Homo sapiens: one gene and its partner. The protein of the gene in region 1 purifies or fractionates together with the protein of each later gene. This does not show direct contact. Each region holds a gene or a part of one and is shown on either strand. Other genes may lie near its edges. The genes, in order: STAU2 and ZNF346.

The links.
Region 2: the proteins of STAU2 (region 1) and ZNF346 purify together in Homo sapiens (affinity purification with mass spectrometry; 2 studies listed by BioGRID and IntAct, with this or other methods). This does not show direct contact.

Annotation. Positions count from the first base shown.
Region 1 is NC_000008.11:73,606,005-73,623,260, reverse strand, and holds part of STAU2 (double-stranded RNA-binding protein Staufen homolog 2), read left to right. Parts: intron 1-5,809; coding exon 5,810-5,969; intron 5,970-7,478; coding exon 7,479-7,586; intron 7,587-9,304; coding exon 9,305-9,517; intron 9,518-17,256. UniProt on the Homo sapiens protein: RNA-binding protein required for the microtubule-dependent transport of neuronal RNA from the cell body to the dendrite.
Region 2 is NC_000005.10:177,060,696-177,067,695, reverse strand, and holds part of ZNF346 (zinc finger protein 346), read right to left. Parts: intron 5,639-7,000; coding exon 5,545-5,638; intron 3,185-5,544; coding exon 3,097-3,184; coding exon of another isoform or gene 2,939-3,096; 3' UTR 2,596-2,938; coding exon of another isoform or gene 2,570-2,595; 3' UTR 1-2,569.

The DNA of each region.
Region 1 (17,256 bases):
TTTAGAAAGATAATACAAAATGAGTCCATAAAGAGGGCATTAAATGAAGTAACTTTAGGGAGGTTGGCAAGGATATGTGGTATAAAAAGTTGCTACAACTAACAGTCAGATATAAGTGAATGTAAAATCTTTCCTTTACTCAAAAAAACTGTAAGGAATATCAAGTATTAAATCAAAGGAACCAGTATACATTCTTTCTTACTGTTGTATTGACTTGTGGTATCTTGAAGATAGGCTGAATCTCAAGACTTGTTTGGGATCTAAAGGAAAGGAAGATTCTATTTTATTTTATTTACAATTTTATTTATTTTTTGCAAGACTTCCAGCAGTTAGAAGGCAAGGAGACATGGGGATAAAAAGGCCTTGCAAGCAGCATTTGTCAGATTTAGTCTGTTAAGTAATGTGGCACACAACGCTGTTCATTTTGATGTTTCACTTTGATTTTACGTCATGCACTTGTGTCTATTTGATCTGACATGCTGCAGAAACACAGTGTTTCATCATGGTTGTCTGTTTGTTTCAGCAGCCATTCACTCAATAAAACATCTCTGAAGTCTATCAGTGGGCCTTACTTTAGATCCCTTGCATTAGGTTCTCTGGCCTTCCATGAAGATAGACAATTTAATAAACAAAAATTAACAAAAATGGAAGAAGATAAAGCAGATTTTTAGGAAGCTCCATACGGAATTTCCTGGACTCTGCAGTTAGGCAGACTTAAATTTGGTTCCCAGCAACTCTTTTGGGGACATTTGTTACCTCTTAAGGTGACCTTGGGGACATCTCCTGCCTCACCAGGCTGTAGTGAGGATTAAATGAAAAAGAGATATGAAAGACCTGGCCAGGCGTGGTGGCTCACGCCCGTAATCTCAGCACTTTGAGAGGCCGAGGCGGGCGGATCACAAGGTCGGAGATTGAGACGATCCTGGCTAACACAGTGAAACCCTGTCTCTACTAAAAATACAAAAAATTAGCCGGGCGAGGTGGCGGGCGCCTGTAGTCCCAGCTACTCGGGAGGCTGAGGCAGGAGAATGGCGTGAACCCCAGGGGGCGGAGCCTGCAGTGAGCCGAGATTGCGCCACTGCATTCCAGCCTGGGCGACAGCGAGACTCCGTCTCAAAAAAAAAAAAAAAAAAAAAATTAGCTGGGCATGGTGGCGGGCGCCTGTAGTCCCAGCTACTCGGGAGGCTGAGGCAGGAGAATGGCGAGAACCCGGGAGGCGGAGCTTGCGGGGAGCCGAGATCTAGCCACTGCACTCTAGCCTGGGCAGCAGAGCGAGACTTCGTCTCAGGAAAAAAAAAAAAAAAAAAAAGAGAGAAAGACCTAACCATTGTGCAGTAAGCATTGTGTGTGGTCTCCTTGAATGGACTCTGAAGCAATTGCCAAGTCACATGGGCCACATTGTGGGATGTGGTGATAATCCTGGACCTTTATCGTGCAGAGAGTCAGCAGGGCAGCTTAAAATTATGGTTCCATCCTCAGAAACTCTGATGCAGCAGATCAGGCTTGGATCACAGGAATCTTCATTTTTAACAAGCATGGAAGATAATTCTGATGAAAGTAGGATCTTTCAAATCCCAAGACTTTTTTGGGATTTAAAAGAAATGCAACCATTTGACCCTGAAACTTAAATAACTTGGATGGGGGAGTTTTCGTGGTTCATCTTTTAACAGTAATCATTATGGGGATCTAAACATTGACCACAGAATTCTACTTGAGAAAAATCATTCAAGAATAGCTATGTCTGCTTAGGTAAATATACTAATTTGTAAAAATATGTACATCACTTATTATACCTACTGTGTTAGTCTGATCTCATGTTGCTGTGAAGAAATACCCGAGACTGAACTGGGTGATTTATAAAGAAAAGAGGTTTAATTGACTGACAGTTCTGCATGGCTGGGGAGGCCTCAGGATGGCAGAAGGCACCTCTTCACAGGACAGCAGGAGAGGAAATGAATGCCAGCAGGGGAAATGCCAGACGCTTATAAAACCGTCAGATCTTGTGAGAACTCACTCCCTATCATGAGAATACCATGGGGGAAACCGCCCCCATGATTCACTTAACCTCCAACCAGGTCCCTCCCACGACACATGGAGATTACAATTTGGATTACAATTCAAGATGAGATTTTGAGTGGGGACACAGCCAAACCATATCAAATACCTTACTAAAAGTGAGCTTAATACTTGAAATAAGTGAAAGTAGAAGGAAATCCACTAAATAGAACATATCGATCTTTATAATTAATAAACTTTGGGTATTTCTTTACCAAAGGAAGTAAGTATTTTGAGACCAGACCTATCACACAAAAACCATTCTGCATCATCTCCCCTGTAATTCAATCTGGATGCAATTAATGAGAGTGCTCTGGCTAATCTTGATTGTCATGATGGTATGAGGAGATGTGATATATAAGGTATTCAAACCATGTGGGGTATATTATTAAGAATCATTGTTAAGTAAGAGGATGAAGTGAAACAGAATGAAATAAGTCAGGCATCCAGTCTTGGTATTTCCTGTTGTTAGTGCTAGAATTTTTACCTTTTATGTTAAAAATGCAACATACTTAATTTTTCCTCTGATACTTACACAATATAATTTATATATACATATATATCCACATGCATGCACATACACATACATTGAGCCATATTTGATGACCAAAAAGGGAGAGGCCCCAAGGGCTCTTTGGTGTGCAATTAATATTTTGGCCAGAAAATCAGCAGATTGTTTCAGTATGGTTATGTGTTATGACATCATATTCCAGTAAAGTTACAATGAACAGAAATTTTGTTTGTCTCTGTGGCAAACCAAAATGAGTTTTGTAATTGTCAGCAGGCCTTAGTGATTATAGTGGCGCCCACTCCCTCTACTGTAGTTAAAGGTCTGTTAGCATTTCAGTTGTGGACCTTCTATTTTCAGAAGTTTATAATTAATTGTAAACATTTGCTCTATGGTGAAAGTTTGCCATATGAGATCTCACTTCAGGAGTAAATTTCTGATTTCAAGTTGTCTGTTTTAAAGTTTTATAGTACCACCAGTTAAAAATAAACAAAGTTATGTGGAGGTGGGAAAATTGAATTTTGAGAAATATGAAGTGAAGATGACCGGCGTTATTCATATTAGTCTGTCAGATTTCTGCATTAAGGAATTAAAATAAATTTCTGCATTAAAGGGATTAAAATAAAATAGATGATAGGAAATTGTGCACTTCAGTACACAATATTTAATTGTTGTAACCAAAAAGCAAAAAAGATTATAGTTTTTTAATGCTTTTTAATCTTTGTTTATAATAAAAACATTTAAAATGCGTTATCTTAAATTAATAGAAAACTGTAGTTCAAGAAAATTGATTTTAGGTTAAGCATTTAAAACAGCAACTTTTTCTTTTTTTTCATACTCTGAATTCCTCTCCTTCATTTGACACTGTTAATTACTCCTGTCCCTGACATTGTGTTGTAATTTTTCTTCTAACTTTGACCCTTTTTCATCTCTTTCACTGCTGTCTATTGTTTCCCTTGCACTTTGATCACAGGCATTAATCAGTTCCGAGCCTTAGGCTCTTTTTTGATTCCTTTACACTTACCCTTTCCAGGTGCTTATCCACTTGCATGGTTTCAATTATTGCCTCACAAATCTGCATCTTCAGTACCAATCAACATTTCTAGTTCTTCACCTTCAGTAAACCTTCATTGATTAGTCCCATCTGCCTGGTGAATGCTTACATGATGCGCTCTATCCAGTTTATCTCAGGTTGGACATAGAGCGTCACTACTTGGATGTGCAGTAATTATCTAAAATATAGTAGGACCTCAATTGGACTTCTTTTTGCTTGGAAACAAACATTTTTTAGGACTGGAGTGATTTTTAACTCATTTTTTTCAGCATTGCAGTTGTAAATCCACCATTCCATCAAAATCGATTCTGTTTATTTTGCTAAGTTGCTCAATTCAGTGGTCATATTTCTCAGTCATCATTTTACTTGACCTGTTAGTAGCATTAGATCCAGTTAATCCCTCCCTTCTCCTTGATAGACTTTTTTCCTGTTTGACTTTCAGGAAGGACATCGTGCTTGCTTGGCTTTTCTCCCATCACACCCTCCCACAGAGTTCTCATTATATTATGCCTTTAAATACCACCTATATACTGATGATTCCCAAATATTATTTCTATCTTGGACCTCTTTCCTGAAGTCCAGACTAATAAATTCAGTTGTCCAGTTGACATCTACACTTGGATATCTAATAGGTCTAATAATTGAATATCCCCAAAACAGAGCTGTTGAAATCCACCCCCAGCAAACCCATTTCTTTTGCAATCTTCACTGTCTCAATAGATGGGTACTCCATTTTCCAGTTGTTTAGTTCCGAAACCGTGATGTCATCCCTGACTCCCCTCTCATATTCCATAGCCAGTCTTTGGGTAAACCCATCATCTCTACTTTCAAAATTCATCTAGAAACAATGACTTCTCGTTACTTCCATTGCTACACCCTAGTTCAGGCCACTGTCACCTTTCCCCTTGATTATCCCAGTAGCCTATTAGATATCCTTGCTTCCAGCATTGTTCCCCTACAGTGTGTCCTCAAAATAGTAGTCAGATGGTTATTCCAAGAGATAAGTCAGATTTTGTCACTTCTCTGTGCAGAACCTTCCAGTGGCTGGTCATTTCACTTGGGTTAAAAATGCCTACAGCAATTTGTAGGGAAGGCCCTATGGAATCTTGCCACCTCTTCTCATCTAGCTTTTCCTGTCTCCCTAAACTTTTGCCAGACAGGCTTCCTCCGAGTTACTTGAACATGTGTGGCACACTCCCGCCTCGCTGCCCTTGCTGCTGGTATACTCTCTGCTTCAGATGCACTGTCCCAGAGATCTGCATGGCTTGTTCCCTAACTTATTTCATGTCTTTACACAATTGATATTTTCTCAATGAAACTTCTCTTGGCCACCCTATCTAAAACCTACCTCCCTGACACTTCTGAACCCTTTCCTCTTTACTTTTTCTTACATCTACATCTAACATACTAGGTATTCTACATATTTTTCTTATTGTTTATCTTCCCCACTCTAAGTGTTGTTGTTCATTGTCATAGTCCCCTGTCAAATAGAAGACGCTCCATAAATAATTGTTGAATTAATGGATTTTATTACATATCTTAATTTTTTCTGCTTAATTTCTTTTGGTTTTTTTGTTTCTTCTTACATTCTCTGTTATCTCTTCATATCTGCATTATTGCAGCTTTTTAGTCACACCTCATTAGCCTCATTACCTCAGGCACCGTAAAATGTATGAATATAACACTTCCTGCTTAAGAACTGGCCTAAACTCCTTATTCTTATGCTGAATCTGCTCTCCTTATTACTTTGCATTGTAGTCGGTCCATTTCTAATCTATATTTCTAATCGTAATTATCTTCTGCAAAAAGCACGGTAATCTACATGTTGTCGCCTGAACAGTCTTGCCTGACCCAGCCTCTGTTGTAGCTTCATCAGACTGTTCTCTTACTTCTGTCAAAATCTGACCGAAAACTTCTCACCAGGAAGTATCCTGTGATATAATTAAATAATTTTTACTGTATTGTTTTATGTTTAATGTTGTATTCTATATATGTTTTTCATGGAGATCAGTATAAGCTATTATCTATAGATGTATTGACTCACATTTTATCAAAAAAGTATGTTTTTGAGGTTAAAGTTTTATTAAGAGTATAGCACATTATATAATTGGTATCATTTTAAACAAATCTTATGAATGATTATAGAGTGGTTTTATTAAGCTAACTTTAATGTTTTTATTTTCTTATTTTAGGTATCATTGCCCAGTGCCTAAGATCTTTTATGTTCAGCTCACTGTAGGAAATAATGAATTTTTTGGGGAAGGAAAGACTCGACAAGCTGCTAGACACAATGCTGCAATGAAAGCCCTCCAAGCACTGCAGAATGAACCTATTCCAGAAAGATCTCCTCAGGTGTGGTGCTGCTGCATGTGACAGTCTGTTCTTTCTACTTTCCCAGTGAAACAAATCAGAGCATTTTATAATTAAAATAAATAATCTGTTCTGATAGGGAAGAATACTAGAGTGAAGACCTGACAGTCTTGCTTCATGTGTTCCTGCAGGGTGACTACCTTTCAGAGCTTTGGTTCTTCCCTTGAGTTCACTTCCCAGGCAACTGGGGATTTGGGGATGTATATGAGGATGAGAAATAACATTGATTTGGCTTATATTTCATACTATGTTTATTGAATATAGATTACATTGTGTGAATCTAGAATCAAGGATTTAAAGTGGAAGAGATTTTATGGATTTTTCAGTCCTCTTTTGTTTTACAAATGACATTGAGGCTGTTCTTAAGTAATCTCACTCATTCTCATGGCTTCAGCTACTTTCTTGATTGACTTCAAAATAGTATCTCTAGCTCAGGCATGTCCTATACATAGCATAGTGAGCTTCCTTTTTTTTTTGAGATGGAGCCTCGCTCTGTTGCCCAGGCTGGAATGCAGTGGCAGGATCTCAGCTCACTGCAACCTCTGCCTCCCGGGTTCAAGCGATTCTCCTGCCTCAGCCTCTTGAGTAGCTGGGACCATAGGCTCATGCTACCACGCCCAGCTAATTTTTTGTATTTTTAGCAGAGATGGGGTTTCACTGTGTTAACCAGGATGTTCTCGATCTCTTGACCTCGTGATTTGCCTGCCTCGGCCTCCTAAAATGCTGGGATTACAGGCGTGAGCCACCATGCCCGGCAGCATAGTGAGCTTCTTACTTACCCTACAGTTCAACCTCTACAGTTTTCCTTTCCCCAAACCAATTGTTTCTTTCTCCTTTGATATTTATCTTAATGGCAGACTTAGGTGTTTTTCTGCTTGTACTCTTTCATGAGAGCTCCTATCTATTTCTTGATCTGTTTTCCCACTAGATCATTCTCTCCCAGTTCTTGACAGCAAGGAATACTGTCTCTTTCTAATAGTTATAGTAAGTTCAGCATATATGAGGCCTTCCAGAAGTATGTGTTAAATAAGTGAATAAAGTAAACCAATGCCTGTGCCAGACATAGATCTCCAATTAGGATGCTCCTGGTTTGCATCCTGTACTCTTTCTGTAACTTCATCCTCATAGATCACATTAGAACACCAGTGGGGGAATTCCTGGGTGTTGGGGGTTGGGTGGGTAGAGAACTCTAAAACAAGAGTGCCAGGTTTAGGGATGTAGGCTAAACTCAAATTAGTGTATGGTTGAGTAAAAGATTTCCAAAGTCTGCATTAAATGCTTTTCCTTCAAGGAAAACAAGCTAAAAATCGAGTAACAAAAAGCCTGGCAGCAAAGCCCTTGACCGCTGTGGTTACAGGAGAATGCAGCAGATACAGTCTATATAGTTTGTTGTTTCTTCTTGTAATTTAAATAGGCCATCTTGACTGTAGAATAAAAGTAAAGTTTGTTATAATGTCAAGATTCAGTGTTATCCTATTTTTTGTGATTTAGAATGGTGAATCAGGAAAGGATGTGGATGATGACAAAGATGCAAATAAGTCTGAGATCAGCTTAGTGTTTGAAATTGCTCTGAAGCGAAATATGCCTGTCAGTTTTGAGGTATGTACTCGGTAGAGATCTTCCCATTTTTTCCCTTGCTGTGGTTATTTTAAACAAACAAATCAAATTAACTGGTGTATTAGTATCCTGCAAGAGTTAGTGTGCTTCTATATGTTCAAACCCAGTATTATGAAATGATCTAGGCCCTGGTGAAAATAGAAATCATGATGATAACACAGATTCCTTCTGATTTTTTTCTTTTCTGTATTAAGCCTTTTGTATACATGGTATTTCAATTTTTATTATAAAAGTTATTTTCTGGGTATAGATAATTTGTGGTATCCTATAAGATTTGGCATTTTAAATAGGATTAAATTAAATTTATTCAAGTTAAGATTTAGTGACATACATGTTAATATCCAATTTTTTTTTCAATTGTGTGGAGGCCAAAATATGTTTCACTTTAACCTCAACTAACAAAATCACCAAGAAGTAAGATGTAATGAAGCAACTCTTGACTTAACAGCTAGATAAATATATTGCAAATATATTCATAAAATTGTATGAAATTTCAAAAAAGAAAACTTAAAAAAATAATTATTATAATACTTCTTTTATTAAGAGGTCACTAATTTTACAACTCATGTCTGGAAAGTAGACAAGAACCAGGAAATAAGCTGAAAGAGTTGTGGAGATTCTTCCCTCACATTGTATGACATTCACCTACTAGAAAGCTCCCACATCTTACTCATTGGCAGGATCATCTGAGTTGGACTGAGAAACTGTTTGCTTTCTCTTGGACACATTCTTACAAGTTGCATTATCTCAGTTCTCGGTCCACAGCTTGTTAAAAGCAGCAAAATGAGGAAGTCAGGGAGAGAATGTACTTGAGATCCTATTGGTCCAGCAAGAAATGATACGGAAAATTTGGAAAACCTGTAAAAAGTAATTGCTTATACTAAAAAATTATTGGGATTTTTTTTAAAGGCTACAATGAGTAAGAACAGACAGTTTTATTATTCTTAGGTGTTCTTGGGAACATCAATATATTATGATGTAGGATATCTGATGTTTATAATGATGATCTAATGTGAACAATTAAAGGTTAAATATTTAGTATTGCAGATTAAACAAGGTTTAGGAACATTACATTCATAGTTGACAGGTCCATAACTCATTACTCTAGAAAGCTAGGAATTTTTTTGGCATACCTACTTACCTTTTTAAAATCGTGTCACAAGAATAAATATCCCTTTCTGTAAAACAGCTTTTGACATCCCTATCAAAAACAGCTTATTTTTATCCATTGACTGTTTTTGAGAGGCTTCCACAGGCACAGTGCCTTGTGGTTTATAGAACTACTCGTTTCTCCAGCAACTTACTCGTACATAGGAGGAAGTTAGGTATGTAATTATATACAAATTATCATTCTAGATGACCAATCTAATATGGTATCTAATCTAATGGTATCTTTGATGTTCTTAAATTTGTGTTCCATAAGACATGGAGAAACTGTAATTAGAATGATCTGTTTTAAAGTAATAAATCATTTTGACTATGAATCAAATGTGTTTATTTAGATTTCTTTTGTTTCAATTGCATTAAGCATCAAGTGTCATAAATAGTCCCAGTATAATACCTTCATAATAGCTTTCTTAAAGAAATACTATAATTTTGGCATAATACTAATTTTGGTTTTGATATGAATATTAAGTCATACTTTAAGAATACATCTCAAGTGCCTATCCATTATTTAATATTTTACTTGTATTTAATAGGTTATTAAAGAAAGTGGACCACCACATATGAAAAGCTTTGTTACTCGAGTGTCAGTAGGAGAGTTCTCTGCAGAAGGAGAAGGAAATAGCAAAAAACTCTCCAAGAAGCGCGCTGCGACCACCGTCTTACAGGAGCTTAAAAAACTTCCACCTCTTCCTGTGGTGGAAAAGCCAAAACTATTTTTTAAAAAACGCCCTAAAACAATAGTAAAGGTAAGTTTATATTTGTGAACATCAGTCAGTTTTACTAAATAAATATTATAGTAGCTATAGATAAGCATTTTTCTATAAGGCAGATCCCTGAACTTATGGACTATATACAGTCCTGAAATGAGGGCAGGACATGTGACTATAAATTAATGACAATTCTATTTTGCTTTTTAAATACCTGTGCACCTGCATTTGTACATCAAATAATCATAATACCTTAGGTATTTATGTATTTCTTTGTTGTTTAAAAAGTGCTTTACCATTCATGTCACCTTTACTATAATCCCCCTCATGACCGTATAAGGTAGATGATGTTAGCCCTCATTTTACAAATAAGATTTTACAAAACGTGTTCAAAGAGTTTGCCCATTTTTATTCAGCAATCATGTCAAACCTCCTGAACCGCTCTGATCTCTAATCCAGTGTTCTTTCTGCACACATGGCTGTTGCATAGTAACTTCTTAGGATATCATGAAATGGTAACAGGATACACACAAAAAAATCATGTGACTAATACTAACAATGATAGCTACAGCAGCTGGAAATCATAAAGCAGTCTATGTGCCAGACTTTGTCCCAACACTTTGCATGCTTTAATCACATTTAATCCACATAGCAACCATATGAAGTAGATGGTGTTATTTTGTTGCCATTCGTTCAGATGTGTATACCTTGCCAAAGAAGAATATAGAGCACACAGCTTTTCAAGATATTGTGACTCTTTTATTGGGTCAGAATTTATTTACATTAATAAGAGAAGCAAGGTAAATATCAGAGGAATGAGATGAATCAGCATTTAGTACAGGACAGTGCCTGTGAATGCTTGACACGTATGACATGTCTGGAGCTAGAGTTCTGTGTTTCCAGAGAAAGCCTTAAATTGCCAGCATTTTAGTTGCTGGCTCAGCCTCACTGATTTAGCAGCCTTCTTCTGATCAGGCTATACAAATGAAGGATTACAGATAAGAAATATATTTAATCTCAATGGATTTCTTTTGATTGCACAATGGCACAATTTAGGTATTTTTACAGGTTTTATACCTTTGTACCTTTATTTAAAATACATATATACATATATACAAAAATAACTACTTAAATATTTGTTTTTAATGAATACTGACATGACTTCACTTAGAAGATGTAGTAGGTAATGCATTCCCTGAACTGGAATTATATGTTATATGTAAGGTAGACTAAAAATAAATACAAATAGATCCACTTATCATGAGTCATAGTGGTTCCAAAGAGGACTGGCACTTTCATTCATATGCTCCTCCTACACAGTCAGGAGTAGAATATAGCTATTAAGAGAATGAACTTTGGAGTCAGTTCTGAGTATGAATCCCTGTGGCCTGAGCAAGTTACCTAACTTTAAAAATATTTCTTCATTTATAAAGTGGGAATAGTAACTGACCTTGCTGTATGGGATTGTTATAAGTATTAACTGAAACAATGCACAAAATGCATTAGTAATTATTAAGTATTCATTGTTATTAATGATAATGCAAATACTATAATAAATAACACATATTAACTATTGGTATTTTGTATCTAATACTACCTATTCACATTTTATGTTTATGTGAATATATCCATGAACTGTTTTCTTAAATCTATTAATATATAAAATCTATGGCTTTTCTGTGATGGAGGAACAGCATTTTATGTTGGAATGGTGGCACAAAACTGGTCACATAACTTCTGTCTGCTCTATTAAACTAAGTTTTATCTTGATAAATTAAGAATAATAAACCAGGCAAACCAGGCTGGGCACGGTGGCTCATGCCTGTAATCCCAGCACTTTTGGGAGGCTGAGGCGGGTGGATCATTTGAGGCTAGGAGTTCGAGACCAGCATGGCCAACATGGCGAAACTTGGTCTCTACTAAAAATACAAAAATTAGTCGGTTGTGGTGGCATGCGTCTCTAATCCCAGCTACAGCTCAGGAGGCTGAGGCATGAGAATCGCTTGAACCTAGGAGGCAGAGGTTGAGGTGAGCCAAGATCACTGCCACTGCACTCCAGCCTTGGTGACAGAATGAGATTCCATCTCAAAATGATAATAATAATAATAATCATAATAATAATCATCATAATAAACTGTTAGGCTGGAAAAGATCTGTACATTTCTATAGTAGGATATAAATCTAACTCTTGTTTTAACTATAGCTATTAAAAGCAAGATTATTATTTAAATGTTATTCCCCAGAGGTGGGAGACAGGAGAAACATTTTGAATTCTCAGTTATTTGCTACTGCTTCCAGTATATAAGTAATATTATCCCAGAACTTCCCTCCTATGCATCATTCAGATCTCAGCATAAACTTGACTTTTTTAGGAACTCCTCTGGTCCTCTCCTACTCCCAGACTAGGTTAGCCTCCTGCATTTTTCCTCATATACATCACACTTGGAGTTACTTTTGCCATGTCTGTCTTATGTTAAAATAAAGCTTGTAGATACCCTCTGAAATGTAAGATTATTTTGAGAGAACAACATGTGTATAATGAGTTGGAATCTAGATAATTTTAAGTATGTTCATACCTTATAATATGTCAGTAAATGGATCAGCTTGGAATAGTATCCTGATTTTTAGCATATTCCTCACTTCCTTGTATGGCTTATACATTGAGGGTCTATAGTTTGTTACACTCAATGGAAGCAGGTAAAATATCTATGATTATTTGCCTTGGTTTTATTTAAAGTAATAAAATAATCACATTGTCTCATTTGATCACTTAATCACTCTGTGATGCAGCATTCATTTCCATCTTACAGATGAGGCCCTTTATATTTAAGAAACCTATCCAAGATCCTGTAGCAGAATCAGCTTTCAGATCCAGTTGTCACATCTGACTCCAGTGCCCATTTGATATTGGTTAATTGTGAACTTTTGGATTTTCAGAGTCACTGTATAGGGTTATCCTGTTAACATGTAAAACTGCCCTGATAATGTCTTTGTGTTTACATTCTGTTTTTAAATGTAATTCTCCTCTATAAGACGAGACTACAAAGAAGGCTTTCTAATCTTAGAGATCAAATGTTCTGGACACAATTATTACAAGACTGTCCTTATTGGTATATAGAATGATGATTTAAGATTTGCTGTCCAAGGAATAACTTAATTGTCAAGGGTGCTGGTAGTTCATTTCAATCAGAGCAAGAAACCAAGTCATCCCCTCCCCCGCTGCCTTTTTTTTTTTTTTTTTTTTGAGACGGGGTCTAACTCTGTCTCCCAAGCTGGAGTGCAGTGGCACCATGATCTTGGCTGGCTGCAACTTCTGCCTCCTGGGTTCAAACGATTCTCCCATGTCAACCTCCAGAGTAGCTGGGACTAGGCATGTGCCACCATACCTAGCTAATTTTGGTATTTTTTGGTAGAGATGGGGTTTCACTGTGTTGGCCAGGCTGGTCTTGAACTCCTGACCTAAAGTGATCTGCCTGCCTTTGCCACCCAGAGTTGTTTTTTTTTTTTTTAAACAGGGTCTCACTTGTTGCCCAGGCTGGAGTGCAATGGTAGGATCTCAGCTCACTGCAGCTTTGATTTTTCTGGTCTCGAGTGATCCTCCCACCTCCCAAGTAGTTGGGACTACAGGCACAACACCACCATGCACAGCTAATTTTTTGTATTTTTTGTAGAGACAGGGTTTTGCAACGTTGTGCAGGCAGGTCTCAAACTCCTGGGCTCAAGTGATCTGCCTACCTTGGCCTCCCAAAGTGCTGCGATTAAAGGCATGAGCCACTGTGCCCAGCCCCAAGCAATTCTTAATGTACACTGAACTCCATCATTATCTAAATTGGATTTATGTATCTGATTCTTTTCATTGCAATCTATATCAACAATAATTTCCTTGGAACTCAGAGACATTCTTTGAGTCAAATTAAACAGAAATAAAGACAGTATGCCACTGGAAACACATTCCTACTTATTTAACATCTTCATGAACTGGGCATACTACTTCTAGTGCTAGACTCAGAGCTTCTCTTTACCTTTTCATTGGGATTTCAATCTTAGACTTATAAATTATTATGTGGATTTGTCTTTTCTCATCAGTCCCTCTTCATTCCCCTTATAATTAATTTAATTTTTTTTTAATTGAGACAGGGTCTCGCTCTGTTGCCAGGCTGGAGTGCAATGGCATGATCTCGGCTCACTGCAACCTCCACCTCCTGGGTTCAATCGATTCTCCTGCCTCAGCCTCCCGAGTAGCTGGGATTACAGGTGCACACCACCATGCTCAGCTAATTTTTTTGTATTTTTAGTAGAGACAGTGTTTAACCATGTTGGCCAGGCTGGTCTTGATCTCCTGACCTCATGTTCCACCTGCCTCGGCCTCCCAAAGTGCTGGAATTACAGACATGAGCCACCGCGCCCGGCCCTTTATTTAATTTTTTTTTTCAGGATATAAGTGGAAGTTGAAACCAGTATTTTATCAAAAGCTAAAAGTTTCCTTTGCTCTTTCCTTTCCCTTCATCTAACCATTGCAACAGTGAAGTTCTCAGTCTTTTTCCTCCTCTTTCCCTAAGCTGTTCTTCTACTTCTGGGGGTTCAATTTCATCTTTAAATAGATGATTCCTGAATACCGTATGCTCTGCACTACCTATTAGACATCCCCACTTAGTATTTCACAGGTGCCTCAAGTTTTGGGCCCAAATTCATCATTTTCCCTTCTAAACCTCTTTCTCCTGCAGCATTCTTTATCTCAGTGACTGGCACAAACATCCAGCTGCTGAAACTGCTGGGGGTCATTTTTAACTTCTCTTTTTTTTTGAAGATGGAGTTTTGCTCTTGTTGCCCAGGCTGGAGTGCAATGGCACTGTCTCGGCTCACTGCAACCTCTGCCTCCTGGGTTCAAGCGATTCTCATGCCTCAGCTGGGATTACAGGTGCCCACCACCATGCCCGACTAATTTTTGTATTTTTAGTAGAGATGGGGTTTCACCATGTCGGCCAGGCTGGTCTTGAACTCCTGACCTTGTGATCCACCCACCTCAGCCTCCCAAAGTGCTGGGATTACAGGCGTGAGCCACTGCGCCCGACGTTTAACTTCTCTCTTACCCCTTACGTCCTATCAGTCATTAAGTCCTATTACTCTGTTAGCTAATATTTCTTTTTTTTCTTTTTCTTTTTTTTTTTTTATGGGACGGAGTCTTGCTCTGTCACCCAAGCTGGAGTGCAGTGGCATGATCTTGGCTCACTGTAACCTCCGCCTCCTGGGTTCAAGCAATTCTCCTGCCTTCCTCAGCCTCCTGAGTAGCTGGGATTACAGGCGTGCGCCACCACGCGTGGCTAATTTTTGTTTTTTTAGTAGAGACGGGCTTTCACCATGTTGGTCAGGCTGGTCTCGAACTCCTGACCTTGTGATCCGCCCTGCCTTGGCCTCTCAAAGTGCTGGGATTACAGGAGTGAGCCACTGTGCTTGGCCTTGTCACCTAATGTTTTTTAAGTTGGTTCCTTTTTTTCCATCCCTTCTGCCACTCTTTTGTCCAACTCACAGACATCTATTAACCTGAACTACTACAGTTAAGGTTTTAACTGGCTACAAGTACTCTTGACACCAAATGATCGTTTAAAAAGTATGATCTTTTAGAGACACCTGTCTAATCATATCATGCCTCTGCTTAAAACCTCTTAGTAATTTTCTTACTCTTTGGATAAAGTCCAAAATCCTAAACATAGTTTGAAAGACCATGAGGGATCTGCCTGGATGCTGTACCTGGAGCACCAAACTACAGATTGTCAAGATGAAATGGCAGCAATCATCCGGAAGAGCTAAGACTGCATAGTGGCTCTTACATAAGTTTAGTGTAACGTGTAATCTGTAACAGAGTGATTATCCATGTCTCCATGTCTCTACAGATAGTAGAGACAAGAATAAATTTTCATAGGTGGAAATAAAGTTTTGACCGTATGATATACGCAGACTTTTATTTCTAGGAAAAATACATGAAGAAAGTTCATATGCAGAAAGATAATTTGGTTTCCAAGAATTTTTGCTTTTTTTTTTTTTTTTGAGACGGAGTTTCGCTCTTGTTGCCCAGGCTGGAGTGCAATGGTGTGATCTTGGCTCACCGCAACCTCCTCCTCCCAGGTTAAAGTGATTCTCCTGCCTCAGCCTCCCTAGTAGCTGGGATTACAGACATGTGCCACCATGCCCGGCTAATTTTTTGTATGTTTTTTTTTAGTAGAGATGGGGTTTCTCTGTGTTGGTTAGGCTGGTCTCGAACTCCCGACCTCAGGTGATCTGCCCGCCTCGGCCTCCCAAAGTGCTGAGATTACAGGCATGAGCCATCACGCCCGGCCTGAATTTTTGCTTTTATGTTATAATACATACAAAAAGCTATATATAAACTTGTGTATAAGTTAAAAAGCATACTAAGTAAGTGTGAGAAAGACCTACTGCCCAACTTGAGTATAAAACATTTCTCAATAAGCTTTGAAGCTCTCTGTATGCTCTTCTTCCATCACGTCCTCATGCAACCTTCCCTAGGCAACCTCTATCACTAGTTTTGTATGACCATTTCCTACCTTATAGTTTTACTATGTTTGTTTTTCTAAAGTTATTTGTTTAGTTCCTTTAAACAACTTTATTGAGGTATAATTGACATAGAGTGACTTGTACATGTTTAAAGTGCACTGTTTGATATGTTTTCGTATTTGTTTGCATGTGTAAAACTATAACCACCATCAAGATAATGAACCCATCCATTCCTCCCAGAATTTTCCTTATGCCCCTTTGTAATCTTCTACCTTAATTTGCCGAGAAACCACTCTTTTTTTTGGCTGGCTTCTTTAACCCAGCATAATTATTTTGAGATTCATCCTTATTGTTGCATGCATGAATTGGTAGTTCTGTTTTTTTGCAGGTAATATTTCATTGAATTGATATACCACCACTTGTTTATCCATTCACCTGTCAGTGGATATTTGGGCTGTTTCTAATTTTTGATTGTTACTCATAAAGCAGCTATGAATATTTGTGTGTGTATCTTAAGAGCATATGCTTTCATTTCTCTTGGGTAAATCCTTCAAAGTGGAATGGCTTGGTCATTTAGTAGGTATATAGTCAACTTTAGTTTTTCAAAGTTGTAGCAGCTGTGCACTTTTACATTCTCATCAGCAGTGTGTGATAACTCCAATTGTTTCACATCCTTGCTAACACCTAGCATAGTTTTTAAAATTTCAGATGTTCATGTAGATGGGTATTGATATCTCATTTTGGTTTTAATTTACATTTCCTCTGTGGCAGATGATATCAAGAATTTTTTATGTGTTTACTGTCACATGAGGCCTGATGAAGTGTTTATTTAAATTTTTTGCCAGCTTAACAAATTTTAATTGCTTATTTCAAATAATAATAAATTTATTATTGAATTTTTAGAGGTCTTTATATACTCTGGATACAGGTGCTTTATTACATATGTACTTTGCAAATATTTTCTTCAAGTCTGTGACTTGTCTTTTTCAAAGAGCAGAAGTTATTAATTTTGAAGATTTATTATGTTTATTTTATTATTATTTATATTGTTTCATTTTATTATTATTAGTTTTTTTACATGGAACGTGATTTTGGTGTTATATCTAAGAAATTGTTACCTAACCAAGTTACAAAAATTTTTCTTCTGGAAATCTTATAGTTTTAGAAATTACATTTACGTCTGTGAGGCATTTTGAGTTAATTATTTTTATAAATGTTATGAGGTTTGGCTTGAAGATTTTTTTTTCTTTTTCTTTTTCTTTTTACAT
Region 2 (7,000 bases), on another chromosome or scaffold:
TCATTGTCATCATGATCTTTGACTGTGTGTGAACCCCTAAGGGCAAGAAAGTGTTCATCTCTAGGTCCCTTTACCAACAGGGCTGGCCACACAGCTGGTAGGGACTACAAAGTGGTCTTGCAGGCCGGAGGCTCACGGTATGATAGCCCACTCACCCCCTGCCCTTCATTTCCTTGCTTGGTAGATGGGGCTGAATCTGACATACTAGGTGGCTTAGAAGGACTCTGGGGAATTGCTGAGGCAGTCTGATCATGGGAAGCTGAGAACCTCCCTTGGGGCTGTGTAGAGCCTTTCACAGCTGACCAGGAGCAGGGGCTGAGTGGCACTGAATGGGAGCTGAGGCTGCCTGGGCCCCTTCCTCAAATCTGGCTGTCTACAGTAAAGGATGGACAAAGAGCTCTTGAGGCCATAACATTCCTTTCTTTTTTTAAATTTTAAAAATTATTATTTTTAGAGACAGGGTCTTGCTCTGTTGTCCAGGCTGGAGTACAGTGGCATAATCATAGCTCACTGCTGCCTTGAACTCATGGTTAAAGCGATCCTCCTGCCTCACCCTTCCAGGTAGCCAGGACTACAGGAATGCACCACCACACCTGGCTACCTTCTTTTAAAATTTATTATTTATTTATTTTGAGACAGGAGTCTCACTCTGTCACCTAGGCTGGAGTGCAGTGGCACGATCTTGGCTCAATGCGACCCTCCGCCTCCCGGGTTCAAGCAATTCTCTTGCCTCAGCCTCCCAAGTAGCTGGGACTACAGATGTGTGCCACCAGGCGCAGCTGATTTTCGTATTTTTTATAGGGACGGGGTTTTGCCATCATGTTGGCCAGGCTGGTCTCGAACTTCTGACCTCAGGTTATCCACCTGCCTTGGCCTCTCAAAGTGCTTGGATTACAGGCGTGAGCCACGGCGCCCAGCCTTCAAATTTATTTTTATAATTTTTTTTTTTTTTTAGATAGAGTCTTGTTATGTTGCCCTGGCTGGAGTGCAGTGGTTATTCACAGGCATGATCACAGCATACTTCAGGCTGGAACTCCTGGGCTTGAATGGTCTTTCTGCCTTAGCCTCCTGAGCAGCTGGGACTATAGGTGCATGACGCCGCACCTGGCCATAACACTCCTTCTCAGCTCATTTTTGAGTCATGAAAAATGCTCTTTCAAGAATCACCAGGCCTATGATAAGTCCCATGGAACAAACCTATCACTGTGTAAGAGCTGAGCAGGAGAAAACCATCTCTCCTCATACACCTCATTTGTTCATTCAATAAAAATTCATGACACACCACTATGGACATCAGGAAGTAGAGATGAATAAGGCTGGGTCTCTGCCCTAAGTGATTAGCCTGGAAAGCCATACTGGACACAGTGTCCATACTGGCCTCCTTGTCTCCTTTCCTGCCCCTCCCTGCACTCCTTTACATAACAGCCAGAACAGTTCTCTCAAACATAAAGCAGATCCCCAGCTTAAACCCTTTAAAGACCTTCATGAGGCCCTATGTGACAGGAGAAGCAGGAGAAGGTGGTGGATGAGAAGATGAGGCTGTACTGAGTTCAGGGCACCTGAACTCAAGGGAGACTTTCACAGGGTGCTCGACTCTGTCCCAACTCCTAAAGTGACTACTGGGGACTACTGAGGTCTGAATGGGGTGGGGGTGAGGGGTCAAGACAGACATACTAGATCCAATGGCAATATGGCTCAAAACCCTAGGTCTGTTAAGTTGTAGTCTGGCCCATGAGGGAAATTCTTTATTTGGATGCTTCAGTGACCAAGAGACAGAGCATTAGGCACACACAGAAGCACACACATACACACAAACACACACACACACACACACACATCCACACACAATATGCAAAGCAAAGGCATTTCACAGGTGAAGGGATAGGGAGTGGGGGAAGGAGGCCACGAGAGCAGCTAGGGGCTTCTTTGACACAATGAAGAGAAGCCTCTGATGGTGACACTCCTTGGAATTCTCGTCTCAAGGTTACAAGGAAAAATCTATCCGTGTGGACTCAGTCCCAGGCCATAAAACACAGCAAAGATAGAGAAATCTGGGTGTGGGGCCTGGGAAACGCCTGTTCCTCACTGTAGAAACCTGCATCAGCTCTCTCTTTCTTTCCCTGGGACCCAGAAATCACCCGGTGGATGATGGGGAAGGCTAGCACCACAGCAAACTGGGCAAGTGGTCCGCTGCACAAGGGGGAAGAGAGGGCTAGTAGGGCCGAGGGTAGCAATGAACCTCACAGCTAGCGGGCATGAGGCAGTCTGCCTTTAGGGGCAGAACCCTCAGGGAGACTTGCATGTGGGGCACTTTCCCGTGTAACCTAGGGTCAGAGCACCTCTGATGGAGGAGGGGAAAGGTCCCATCCCCATTGGAGTGTCCTATGATCTCAGTGGACATGGAGGCCGCCCCCAGCCCCAGCTCGTTGCCAACTGCTGCAGATCCTTAGCACCATTCAGGAACTGTGGAGGGGGCAGCGGGGGTAGCAATGCTCCGCCAAGATTGTGTCACTGCTCCAGGAGGATACTTCACAGTTGGCAGAAACCTGCGCAACTGGCCATATCTGGTCTAAGACTCAGGAAAGCCTGCACCTTCTGGGGGAAGGCAGAGTGTCGTATTAGCTCCAAGCTCCCATGTTGCAGCCATTTCCTCTGTTTCCTGCCCTGCCCCAGGTTTGGCATGAAAGTTCCAGGTTTTGCTGGAAATGTCTAGGGCCCAGAGAGATCTCTGCTCTTTAGTTGCAAGAACTGGCCCAAAACTGACCTTTAGAGGAAAGACAGGTGGCAGGGGCCTCAGCACCTAAGGCCCAGAGGGGTTGGGAAATGGGGAAAGCCACCCTCCAAACTACCACCCCGCGAGACCCCGAGTCTCTCAATACCCTTGCCTCCCCTGTCATGACCTACAGGACCCCTGCCAAAGGGGAGCAGCAGGAGTGAATTAGCCCGGACCAATGAGAGGCTGTCTGTGGCCCAATCCTGCCTCAGGCCCGTGTACTTTCCTGGTGAGAACAACGAGCAAGAGGGAGCCAAGGGCTGAGCAGTCACGGGAAGCTGGCTCATGGCTGGCCCAATATGGGATGCTGGGCAGAATCACCTCTAGTCTTCCAAGGTGGTTGAGTCTTTCTGAATGGGTTGCCTTTGCATTGGAATCTGGCCCAGGGATGATGCCACTGTTTTTGGTGACCTGTATTTGAGAAGGAACAAAGGAAGAGGGTCAGTGTGTGGCAGCTGTATTGGCCTACTGCAATGATAGCACTGCCCTTCCAGGGCCTTGGAGTAATAGACAGGACACCTTTCCTTCACTGAGGTCCACTGTGGGCTGGCAGAATGCTGGATGCTTAGCTTCCATCATTCCATCCTCATGGCAATTCTGCAAGGTGAGAAACAGCACCCTCATTTTACATACAAGGAAACTAAAGTTCAGAAAGCTTAAGTGGCTGGCCCGAAGTATGTTTTTAGGTGGTAGGTTCAGGACTGTAGCCAATGCCTTTTCACTATACCAAACCACTGCCTACAGGGCCCTATAAAAACTCATTCCATTTGGTAGTGGCAGAGTAAAATGAATGGGCTTCGAAGTCAAACAGGCTTGAATCCCAGGTCTAACTGCAAGTAACTAAGTGACCTTGGGGAAGTCAATTAACCTATCTGATAATTAGGCTTTCTTTGGTTGTAAAAGATGGGTTTGGGAGGGGGTATCCTAATTTCAGACCTTTTGTTGAGAAATTTAATGAGACTCAATCAGGTATTCAACAAATTATAGCTTTATTCTTACAGAATTAGAGGCTTTTTTAAAATTTTGAGACAGGATCTCACTCAGGCACCCAGACTGGAGAATAGTGGTGCCATCATAGCTCACTGCAACTCATGGCTCACTCCAACTCCTGGGCTCAAGCTATTCTCCCACTTCAGCCTCTCAAGTAGTTGGGACTACAGGTGTGTGCCGCCACACCTGGCTAACTTTATTTTTTGTAGATGGGGTCTCACTACATTGCCCATGTTGGGAGAATTACAGACTTATTGACTTGCCCAAGGTCACACTGCTGGAAAGTTTAGCAAGAGAGCAGCGAACAACACTGGCAATTTCAGGTGTGGGTAGCCCCAGGGAGGGGCTCTGGTTGGCTTCAGGTTGTCTACTGTAACTGCCATCAGCCAGGCTGCAAGGGAGGTATGTATGCTGAAACACTGTGGGGCTGAGTTGCTGGGGCAACTCAAGTCTACACCTAAGAGTCCCCCAAAGTAAAAAACATATTCACAGGTAAAGAGGATGATCTGCTACAGTGTGAGAGAGGAGACTCCAGGCAGAGCAGAGAGAACTAAGGACATTTTTTACACCAATACTCTGTGTTTCTACCACCTTTAAATCATTCAGCTCAATGAGCAAAGCAAAATCAATGACCAAAGTCAAAGCAATCATTTCGGCAGCTTGCCTGCCTGAAACTCAGTTTCCTTGTCTGTAAAATGGGAATTCTTCTACCTATCTCAGAAGGTTATGCTGGGGCCAGGTGCAGTGGCTCATGCCTGTAATCCCAGCACTTTGGGAGGCCGAGGCAGATGGATCACTTGAGCTCAGGAGTTTGAGACCAGCCTGGCCAATATGGTGAAACCCCATCTCTACTAAAAAAAAAAAAAACGTTATGTTGTGGCACACTGCTCATACCACACGTTTCCCTTCGGAGAGGAAGGGACAGAACCATGTGGGCCCTCCAGGCCAGGCCCTATTCTCTTCATATCAGTGGTGCCATAGCCTACTTCTGAGCCTGACGCCTTGGGAAGAGCATGCTGTGAGCCAGACAGGCTTCAGTTTGAATCATGACCTTGCTTCATTCACATCACCACTTTGAATGCTGGTTGTCTATATGTATAAAATGGGAATAATTATCTCTTCCTCTCAGGGTTGGAAGGATTACCTGAGAAAATCTGCTTGACATATGGCCTGCAACAGAAGAGGGGCTCAATGAATGTTAGTCACTTCCAAGATTACCATGAACAGGTAACTCTCTGTTCACCTGGTTCCTTCAAAACCCTTATCACAATCTGTGATTATTGGTTGTTTACTTGCTTAGTCTGTTTCCTCCCACCAGGCTGTAAGGTCAGGAGAGCAGAGACTGGGTCTGTCTTGGCCATCATTCAGAAGATGCTCAATATATATTTGATTAAGGAATGAGAGGGCCTGGTCATATTTGATAATGACCTATAGAGGGAACTCCTGCCAGAAAAGGAGAGGGTCTCCAGGCCAGTGGAAAAGCACTTCCCCAGTCAGAGTGCTACAGACTAGGACAGCCAGGTGTTCTTAGGGTCCCACCAAGGAAATCATGTATGCTTCTCTATTAAACCCTTGAGTCCAACAGGTCTAAAGGCTGGGCAGAAGCTGGTGGAGAAATACATATAGAGGAGACACTTGTTCCTGTTACATGATTCATCTTCTGTTCACTGAAAAAAGACTGCCAGGATTCCATTTCAGCCGAGAACTACCTGGCTTTGTTCTGATGCAGAAGTCCTGAGCTCCTGCTATGGATCCTAGAATTTCAAAAAATGGTTACTTACTGGTTCTTGTGTTTGAAGCCGCTGACATGAGCTTGGTACTGTTCTATGGAGTTCAGCACTATCTTACATGTTTTGCAGGGGTAGCCCTTTCCAGCTGAAACACATCAAAATCAAGATCTTAGTAATCCAGAAAGAAGGAACCTGAAGACCGTTGCTTTTCAGAGTGTACAAATGCCCTTCTAAGGACGGACAGGTGAGGCGAGGTGAGGTTGCTGGCCCTGATGAGAACCCAGAGGCCACAGTGCTAAGGAGGCACAGACTGTGTGCCTATGTGCTTCCTGGGGTTGGGAAGATCCTCATTCCTGTGTCCCTCGTTCCAGCGTAGAGCCTGGCCCAGACTAGCTGTCTGCTGAGTGATAAAAGAATGACAGAACAGAGAGGTGACATTTGGTCTGTATTTCTACCTTGACTGTGCTAAGTGGCCTCATTAAGGACGTCCTTCACTGAGAGATCTCTGGGAAGGTGCCACTCTCCTAGGGCTTGCGGTAACAGTAATTAGTGAGAACGCTGGTTATGATAATCAATCTGTCTTTCTACCCTGGGAATCACAGACCCTATCTCAGGGCTGCTCCAATGACAAAGTGGCTTTTCCCACATGGTCTGGTAGTGAGGGAGGAGCCAGGATAGGGAACTGAACTGCTGGTTCTGCTTTCAAGTGATCTTAGCTAGATCCTTTCCTTTCTTCTGATCCTTTTCTTTTCTTTTTTTGAGACGGAGTCTCGCTCTGTGGCCAGGCTGGAGTGCAGTGGCGCGATCTTGGCTCACTGCAACCTGTGCCTCCCGGGTTCGAGGGATTCTCCTGCCTCAGCCTCCCAAGTAGCTGGAACTACAGGCATGTGCCACCACACCCAGCTAATTTTTGTATTTTTGGTAGAGACAGTGTTTTATCATGTCGGCCATGATGGTCTCTCTCTCTTGACCTCATGATCCATCCGTCTAGGCCTCCCAAAGCGCTGGGATTATAGGCGTGAGCTACCGCACCCGGCCTGATCCTTAGCTTTTCTTACCCTCAAACCAATTACACCGCAACTTGTTTTTTTTTGAGACAGTCTTGCTCTGTCGTCCAGGCTGGAGTGCAGTGGTGCGATCTTGGCTCACGGCAAGCTCCGCCTCCCGGGTTCACGCCATTCTCCTCCCTCAGCCTCCTGAGTAACTGGGACTACAGGCGCCTGCCACCACACCTAGCTAATTTTTTTTGTATTTTTAGTAGAGATGGGGTTTCACTGTGTTAGCCAGGATGGTCTTGATCTCCTGACTTCGTGATCCACCCGCCTCGGCCTCCCAAAGTGCTGGGATTACAGGCGTAAGCCACCACCCCAGCCCACAACTTATTTATTTATTTAGAGATGGAGTTTTGCTCTTGTTGCCCAGGCTGGAGTGCAATGGCGTGATCTCTGCTCCCTGCAACCTCTGCCTCCCAGGTTCAAGCGATTCTCCTGCCTCAGCCTCCCAAGTA